Regions from separate parts of the Homo sapiens genome. Here region 2 is reported to be linked to region 1. Evidence: microRNA targets listed by miRTarBase, many of them from high-throughput screens and not tested one by one. Region 1 holds a microRNA gene; the other region holds the end of a gene's coding sequence.

What was found. Region 1 holds the annotated microRNA hsa-miR-365a-5p (AGGGACUUUUGGGGGCAGAUGUG, at 1,841-1,863, opposite strand). A microRNA usually pairs through its seed, bases 2 to 8, with sites in the 3' UTR of a target mRNA and lowers its output. Matches are read on the target gene's strand: a 7mer-m8 pairs with bases 2 to 8, a 7mer-A1 pairs with bases 2 to 7 and ends in A, and an 8mer does both.
Region 2: miRTarBase lists SLC43A2 as a target of hsa-miR-365a-5p. Seed matches in the 3' UTR shown: 7mer-A1 at 3,542-3,548.

The regions. Positions count from the first base shown.
Region 1 is chr16:14,307,095-14,311,162 of GRCh38, reverse strand. MIR365A (microRNA 365a) reads right to left here and starts at 1,878; the gene lies at 1,792-1,878. The region is part of intron 1 of MIR193BHG (MIR193b-365a host gene); the gene reads right to left. RefSeq lists enhancers at 146-285, 386-505, 297-591, 2,478-2,527, 3,323-4,007 and 1 more and a silencer at 417-711.
Region 2 is chr17:1,572,313-1,576,375 of GRCh38, reverse strand. It overlaps SLC43A2 (solute carrier family 43 member 2), which reads left to right. Exons shown (of 14, transcript NM_152346.3): 14 at 611-4,063. The coding sequence ends at 772. Among named protein-coding and RNA genes, the nearest start is that of PITPNA, 12 kb to the right of the region's middle. RefSeq lists enhancers at 1-47, 48-860.

The sequences.
Region 1 (4,068 bases):
AAAAAAAAAAAAAGGTTGTTTTGGGGGAATCTCCAACAGCTCAGGAAACCATCTCATCGGCTCCAGGCTTTTCTCACTTGAGGTCCCCGACACTGTGCAGGTGGAAAGATTTAAGGGGCTCCTGAGAGCCCAGCCCCCATCCTGGCAGGCTGCAGGGGGTGGGTGGGGGGTGCGTTCTGGCAGCAGGGCCGGCAGCTGTCTGCAGGCCTCTCAGTGCCTGCTCTAGCTGGCCAGCGGGGGCCCGCTGCCACCCCCCACCCCATGATGCAGCAGAAAGTGAAACCGCAGTTGGCCCCTGCCGGCTGGGACTGATCACCCATGGTTTCCCTGCAAAACCAGAGTCCCAGGGGGCTGGTGGGCAGCTGGCTCCCAGGTCCGGCACAGTGAGGCCTGTCAGGCAAGTGCCCCTAGAGGCCAAGGGAGGTGCCCTGGCCAGAAAGGAGGGTGCTGAGTCATCGTGACCCTAAAATGAGAGAGAAATCTGAGCTATGGATCAATGCAGGAGTGGGGGGGTGAGGGGTCCCAGTGGTGTCGGTGAGCAGGGAAGGGTGGTTTCCCGACCCCCAAAAGGAAGATGTGTGACACCCAGTTTTGTCATGCTGGAGCCCTCTACAGATCTGAACTGGCAACTCCCCCATCTCCCCCCACCCCTCCCCACACCGACTACAGGAGTGCGGAAAATCCCTGAGATAAACAAGAATTCTCTAAAAGTGGACCTCTGAAACTTTACACACGACTTTCTGATTTCTGTCCCATCCTCAGGGCAGCTGTAGTTGCTTAATATTTTTCTTCCAAAACACCCACTCTTTTTTGTTTAACTGACATCAATTGATGGACAAAAAAAGGGCCCCTGTCTCCCGACCCTAAATGGAAAACCAACCAATTGCCTGAAGTACAAATCAGCGGTGCAAAGAATACCTACTAGAATAATTTTCACCTTTAGCCGGCGCCGCTTAAAATCAGAGATGTGCAAATCAGACTTGGGAGTCTGAGTTACAGGTTTCATGCCTGAGGAGCTGGTGGCTCAGAGAGACTGACTCACTTGTCCCGGGTGACACAGCAAGAGAGGCGCAGAGCTCGGGCTGGAATGCAGGCCTGGCTGATCCCAGAAACCCAGGCTCAGTGCTGGGCTGCCGTCTCCCCACCCATGAATTCCTCTGTGTGTATTCATATTATTACCTTCCATGTTTAATGCATGGACTCTCCAATTTTCAAAGCACCTTCAGAGCTTATACAACGTTAGAGCTTTTTATATATAACATTGGCTACATCCAAGAACCCTTTGAAGCCAGAGCAGGGGGTGCTGCCCCTCCCTTGGTGTATGGGGAAACTGAGGCAGCGAGCGGGGAAAGTGTTCTGTCTCAGGGAGCTAGCAGGAAAGCCAGGACTGCCCCAGGGCCCCCTGCCAAGGCGATGATCCCGGAGGCCCTGGCTGCAAGGACCAGGCCTCGTCAAACAGGTAACACTTGTTTCTTTCCGCTTTCCCTACCTCCCCCTACAACCCCCCAGAGCAAATGCTGACGCTGATGGGGAGCCACAGCTGTACTCCTTCCCAGGCCGGATCTCAGCGTCTGCCCCTGGAGGGCAAAAGCACGTTTAGCAACCAGTGTCTGCGCATGGCGTCTTTCAATTTTTCACAGTGATAACCGGTTTTGAGCACAAGAAGGCATCTACCAGGGACCCAGAAGGCGCTACAGCGGAAGAGTTTGGGGAACAGCTTTCTCTCTTCTTTGAGTTGCTGGAGGAACTCCGAGCTGATGTCTTTCTGGCCCAGGGACCCCCGAGGAATACTGCAAGAGCAATAAGGATTTTTAGGGGCATTATGATAGTGGAATGGAAACACATCTGCCCCCAAAAGTCCCTCATTTTCCCTGCGGTAACGAACCAGCTGGCAGGAAGTGGTAGCTCTCAGAGCACCAAGAGCCAAAACTAAAAAGGAAAAAATGTACAAAGTTAGAGCAAACTTTAAACAAGTGAGCGCTTTCATGGTGTACGGCGGCTCCGTGCAGACTCACGAAAGGGACCTCATCTTCTCAATAATTGGCTAAATAGGTCTCAGTGCAGCAGCTTCCACACAGACGTGCTCAGAAAACCACAGATCTGGAATCCCAGAGCAGGTTCCCAAAATGGATACAAGGATTATTCCCTAAAGCCAGGCGCATCATAGGAGACGTGACGTTTCCCCCAAACTTCAGATGACTGTTCCAGACCCTCATTAATGATCTAAGTTATCCTTCAACACCTCCTCCTCTGGAATGGGAGAAACTTAGTCCCCTTGGAAATGCTGATGAAAATACCTGGTTTCCACAACACGGACAGAAGGACTAAGGCTTGGGTAGGGGAGCTGAGTGGTTATCGCTGGTGGTGCAAAAGGGGCAAACCGGCTGGCGTGGGGGCTCACGCCTGTAATCCCTGCACTTTGGGAGGCCAAAGTGGGAGGACTGCTTGAGGCCAGGAGTTTGAGAACAGCCTGGGCAACACAGTGAGACCCCCCCCAAGTCTCTGCAAAAAATAGCCAGGTGTGGTGGTGTGTGCTTGTAGTCCCAGCTACTCAGGAGGATGAGGCTTGAGCCTAGGAAGTTCAGGCTGCAGTGAGCTGTGCTCACCACTGCACTCCAGCCTGGGCAACAGAGTAAGACACTGTCTCAAAAAAAAGGGGACGGGTTTTACTGCTAAGGTCCCAGGTGCCATCTCTTGGTTCAGCCACTAAGATCTGAGGACTAAGGAGTTCAGGGTGTCTTCCCCAAGGCATATAACCTTTGAGGCCCTGCAGGTGGGTGCCCCCTGTGCCAGCCAGCACCCTCAGAGCCAGGAAAGGGTTAACCCCTCCACATGGCTGACACCAGAGGAGGAGCTTACTACGCAGCCTGGGATATCACACTGGGCCATCTCAGAGAGGAGAGGCCTCTGTGAGTTCTGTGAATGGAAGTGGATTCACTGCCTTCAGATTGAGAACGGGGTGAAAAGGCATCCCCACACAGAACCGACGCCCCAGTCGCTAGCTGGCTCCTTGGCACCCGTCGCATGGCCCCGAAGCTCTGGCAGGGACTCTGGGCACCTGTACCAGTGAGCACCCGGCCATCTCGGCCAGGTCTGTGAGGGAGCGATTCTACCCTTGCCATGTGACAGCCGGCAACTAGGGCCCAGATCTCTTCTTTCAAGTAGCACCTAAAATATTCTCCGGGTGAACCTAGGGCTAAATACGGCATGGCCTACAGGTGCCGGGTCTGGACCTTTTAACGCCATTCTAAGATACGATCGAGAACCCACGAGGCCTTTGGTAGCCTGGAGTCCAGTTACTGGGGCCAAATGGGAGTCCCACGGGTTTGGCTGACTCAGGGCTGGGTGCAACTTCCTGGAGCAGGCACATGTTGGTGCCAGGGCAGAGAGGCTGCAGACAGTTTTCTTGTGTGTTTGAACCCAGAATGCCAGCCCAGTTCTCACTCTGGGCCGACCCCCAAGGTGGCTTAGTTGGTGGCCCCTTTTTCTGTCCACCTGGCCCACTTCTTTCCACTTCCAGCCTGCAGCCCGGCCCTTCCTGGCCTAGGTTTTCCTCCCAGCCTGATCAAAGCAAAAGGCTCAGCTCCCAGGTGGGAGGCCTCACGGAGCTGGAGAAGAGACCAGCAAACACATGCACGGTAACTCAGATGTGTTATGTGTTGTCTTGCTGGCTGGGAGCTACGCCTCCTAGGCCCACCCCAAGTCGAAGGATCGCAGCCCTGGTGCTCGAGAGCAAGGGCTTGGGGCTGGGCTGCAAAAGCTCAGCTTTGCCTCTGAATCTTCTAGAACCACGTTTGCACTCACACAGGACAGATTTGCTCTGAGCCTGTGGGATAGCCTCATCTGTTCCCCTTTGAGCATTTGGAAAGCAAAGTGGGGTTCTGCCCTCGCCAGAGCCCACAGGGTCACCAGGCTATTAAACCCTGCAGAGTCTCTGGGGAGGCTGACTTTGAGAGCCAAATACCCCATCTTCTGGCTGAACTGCTGCAGGCTTCGTCTCGGGAGGAAAGACCCCCAGGCACCTGTCTGGACTTGTCTGGGCACCAGTAGTGGCTCTGAGGCCACATC
Region 2 (4,063 bases), not on the chromosome of region 1:
GCGGTGGCTCACACCTGTAATCCCAGCACTTTGAGAGGCCGAGGCGGGAGCATCACTTGAGGTCAGGAGTTCAAGACCAGCCTGGCCAACATGGTGAAACCAGGTCTCTACTAAAAATACAAAAATTAGCCAGGTGTGGTGGCAGGTGCCTGTAATCCCAGATACTCGGGAGGCTGAGACAGGAGAATCACTTGAACCCGGGAGGCGGAGATTGCAGTGAGCTGAGATTGCGCCACTGCACTCCAGCCTGAATGACGACAGCGCGAGACTTCGTCTCAAAAAAAAAAAAAAAAAAAAAAAAAGAACACAGTTCCTGTCCCCGCCCCACCTCCGAGGGCCAGATTTCCTCACCAGGTACCAGGAACTTGTTCCAAGCCCAGAGGTTCAGATCAGCCCGTGTTTCCTGGGGGCCCAGGCCCTGAGGGTGGCCACATGGCCTGTGAAGAGTTGGGAACCGGGACGCTGGCATATGGGACCTCGTGGGCCTTCCTGTTTCGTTCCCCCTTCCACCCCGTGACCTTCTCCCCTTTCCCAAACCCGAGTGGAGGGCGGGTCTGCAGCCTCGGCGCACCACCACGCCCTGTGATGCGCGGCCTCCCTGCCTCCCCAGGTGAACGTGGGGCTGCTCCTTCTCAGCCTGCTGGGCTTCTGCCTCCCGCTCTACCTGATCTGCTACCGGCGCCAGCTGGAGCGGCAGCTGCAGCAGAGGCAGGAGGATGACAAACTCTTCCTCAAAATCAACGGCTCGTCCAACCAGGAGGCCTTCGTGTAGTGGCTGCCGCCTCGGAACTGCGGTCTCCTGCCTGTGCTTCAGTGACTGACCCCTGTCCTGCCCCTCCAGAGTACCCCACGCACCCCCAGGACCTTCGCCGTCTCCGTGCCAGCGTTCACGCTCCCTCCCGGGGCCCTGCCTCGGAGCTCTGTGGTGGAAGGACGGGAGAGGGCCCCGGACACGCGCGTTTTCTCCTGCCGAACGCAGGGGCTGCCCTGACTTTGCTCTGCCGCCCCCCGGGGACCCGGGGCCTGGGGTCTCTGTGGTGCCTGCAGCAGGAGCCAGGAACGCCCGGCAGGCAGGCGCTCTCCCGCCAGTGTCTGGATTCTGCCTCTTGCCAAAGCAGAGGGGGCTGCCATCCCCTGCCTGCCACCTGCCCCTCGGCTGCATGCCCACAGCCGTACCTGCCTGAGGACAAAGGCTTGCACTGTCTCGCCCGCGCCTGGCCCCCACCCCCTCCCCGGCCAGCCTGAGGCTGCCTGAGGAAGGAAGGACCCGCTTCCTGTTGTCGGTGCTAATTCCTTTGTAATTCCAGCCCCCTGTCGCCTGTCCAGGGCCTGCCCACCCGTTGGAGGCCGGTGGAGAAGCCCCACCTGGCTTATGCCCTGGAGAGGGTTTAGCGGGCTGGGTGGACCCCTCGCCTCCTCCCCGAGGGCCAATGCCGCGGACACGTTTTCACTGTCACCCTCGTTCTGTCTGCCACCTGAAGGGAATTTGAGGACCGCCGCCAGGGCACCCCGTACATACACACAGCTGCTTTTGTGGAGGTGGACGAAAGGCTGTGGCCGGCAGACGTGGAGGTCCAGGCCGGGGTGGGGACGTGGGTGGGTCCGAGGTGTGTGTGGGGTCGGGGTGGGCTCTAGGAGTTAGCCCTTATCCCCACTGACCAGGCGGGAGCCGCCAGGCCTGCAGCTGGGCCAGTGCCCAGGAGCCATCCTGGCGTGGGGCCAGGAGCTTGTCCAAGGCCACAGGCCCACAGCACCCCCTGCCGGCGGGCTCCGTGGGGCCCTGGAGCTGATGACGGGGGAGGCCCGTCCGCCTGGCCCACCAACCCGCCCACCTTGACTGCCCCCAGAAGTGTGTCTTGAGACCTCCTGGGCGTGCTTAGAGGGGTGAGTTGTGTTTGGATTTTTAGTTATTTTCTCTTCAGTTTTATTAGACTTCTTTTTTATAAAGCAATAAATCCATTTTCCTCCGGGTAAGGGATGCCCCTTCTGGCATATCAGTTAATAGCTGCATGTGCCTATTTTGAGCTTGAGAAGAAAAGGCAGGACAAGATTCTCTGCCACCGACCAGCTCCAGCCGTGCCCAGCTGCTCTTCGTCTCTCTGGGGGACTGCTGACTCGGGAGGGACAGTGGGCCAGGAAAAGACCTTCCTCCCCAACCCCCAAACAAACTGGGCTTGTGCAGACATCTTAGAAGTGTGAGCCACCCTCCTCTACCGATTTTCCCAGCCAAACAGGCGAATCCTGGTCCCTTTCCATCCCTACACCCTTCCACAACCCTGAAGATTCCCGCTGGGTTCTTCTGCAGGCTCAGAGCAGTTCAGGATGTGGGCGGCAGGGAGGGGGATGAAAGGAGAAGAGGAAAGGGCAGGTCCAGGCCACATTCAAGCTCCACATTAACAGCTTGGGCGCCTGGAACACATATCTCCTAGGCTTTATTTCACTCAAATATTTAAAAAAAGACTGGGCGTGGTGGCTCACGCCTATAATCCCAGCACTTTGGGAGGCCAAGGCAGGAGGCTCACCTGAGGTCAGGAGTTCGAGACCATCCTGACCAACATGGAGAAACCCCGTCTGTACTAAAAATAAACATTAATCGGGCGTGGTGGCGTGCGCCTGTAATCCCAACTACTCGGGAGCCTGAGGCAGGAGAATCGCTTGAACCGGGGAGACGGAGATTGCCGTGAGTCGAGATCGCACCATTGCACTCCAGCCTGGGCAACAGAGCGAGGCTCCGTCTCAAAAAGAAAAAAAAAAAGAGAACGAGATAAACATGCCCACTCCTGAGAACACTCGTTTTGTGATGTTAGTGGTTATTCTGATTTTCAAGAAAGTATTATAGTCAAGTTTGGGAAAGGCTGAGTTAAAAGTCAAGCCTGTTTCCTTACAGCCAGCACTGACAGCACTTTGCCAACGCTCATGAGCTCCGTGGCTCCTCAGGAGCGGGTGTGCTGTGCTGCCGAGGAACGGCTCGAACCATCAGAGCCACCAGCCTCCACGTGCGGCTCCATGATCACCCCCAGCAGAGGCTCCCGGGTGCTGGTTCCAAATGGAGACTCCAGGTCTTGCCGCTGACCGGTGACTCTGCTGCCAGCATTTGAGACCCGCCATCACACAGGAGTTGCAGATTCGGAGAAACCCTAACTAGCCAGGGTGCTGCCAGCTGGGAAAAGGCCGCCTTTTTTTTTTTTTTTTTTTTTTTGAGTTGGGGTCTTGCTCTGCCATCCAGGCTGGAGTGCAGTGGTGCAACTGATAGCTCACCACGGCCTCCAACTCATGGGCTCAAGGGATCCTCCCACCTCGGCCTCCTAAGTATCTGGGACTATAAGTGTGTGCCACCATGCCTGGCTAATTTTTTTTTTCTTTTTCATAAAGATGAATTCTTGCTATTTTGCCCAGGCTGGTCTGGAACTCCTGGGCTGAAGCAATTCTCCCACCTCAGCCTCCCAAAGTGCTGAGATTACAGGCGTGAGTCACAATGCCTAGCCAAAAAGCCAGTCTTGAGATGGGGAAGACGTGGCCCGTGCTGTCCCCAGCAGTGCCCAGTCCCAGCCAAAGTGGGCAGTGCTGCCTCACTCTCCCACCCACCCTCAGGGTGTGGCACTTACTGGGAAGAAGCAGGCATTGAGAAACAGAATTGAGGGGGGGAAACAGTCCAGGGCCAACAGTGCTTGGGGATTGAGGCCTGAAAATGCGAGCAGGGTACAGAGGCTGTGGCTGGCCAGATGGGTCGGGTGCCCCCTGCACTCCCACCCCCTAGTCAGGGGTCACCCATCCTACTTTGCCTTGTGTGGAGCTGACAGGTGACATGTTTTCCTATTGTTGTCCTTGACTTGATAACAATCTGGGAGTTAAACACATATGATCATCCCTGCTTTACAACTGAAAAACGAGGCCTAGAGATACTATCATCATATACACCTGAAAAACGAGGCCTGGAGCGATGGAGGAGCTTGTTCAAGGTCAGAGCCAGCACTCATATATGGGTCTTAAGACACTGGAGCAGCCAAGGGCCTCTAGACCAGGACATTCCACTCGGAGCAGCAGCTCAGGGGCCACCAGGCCT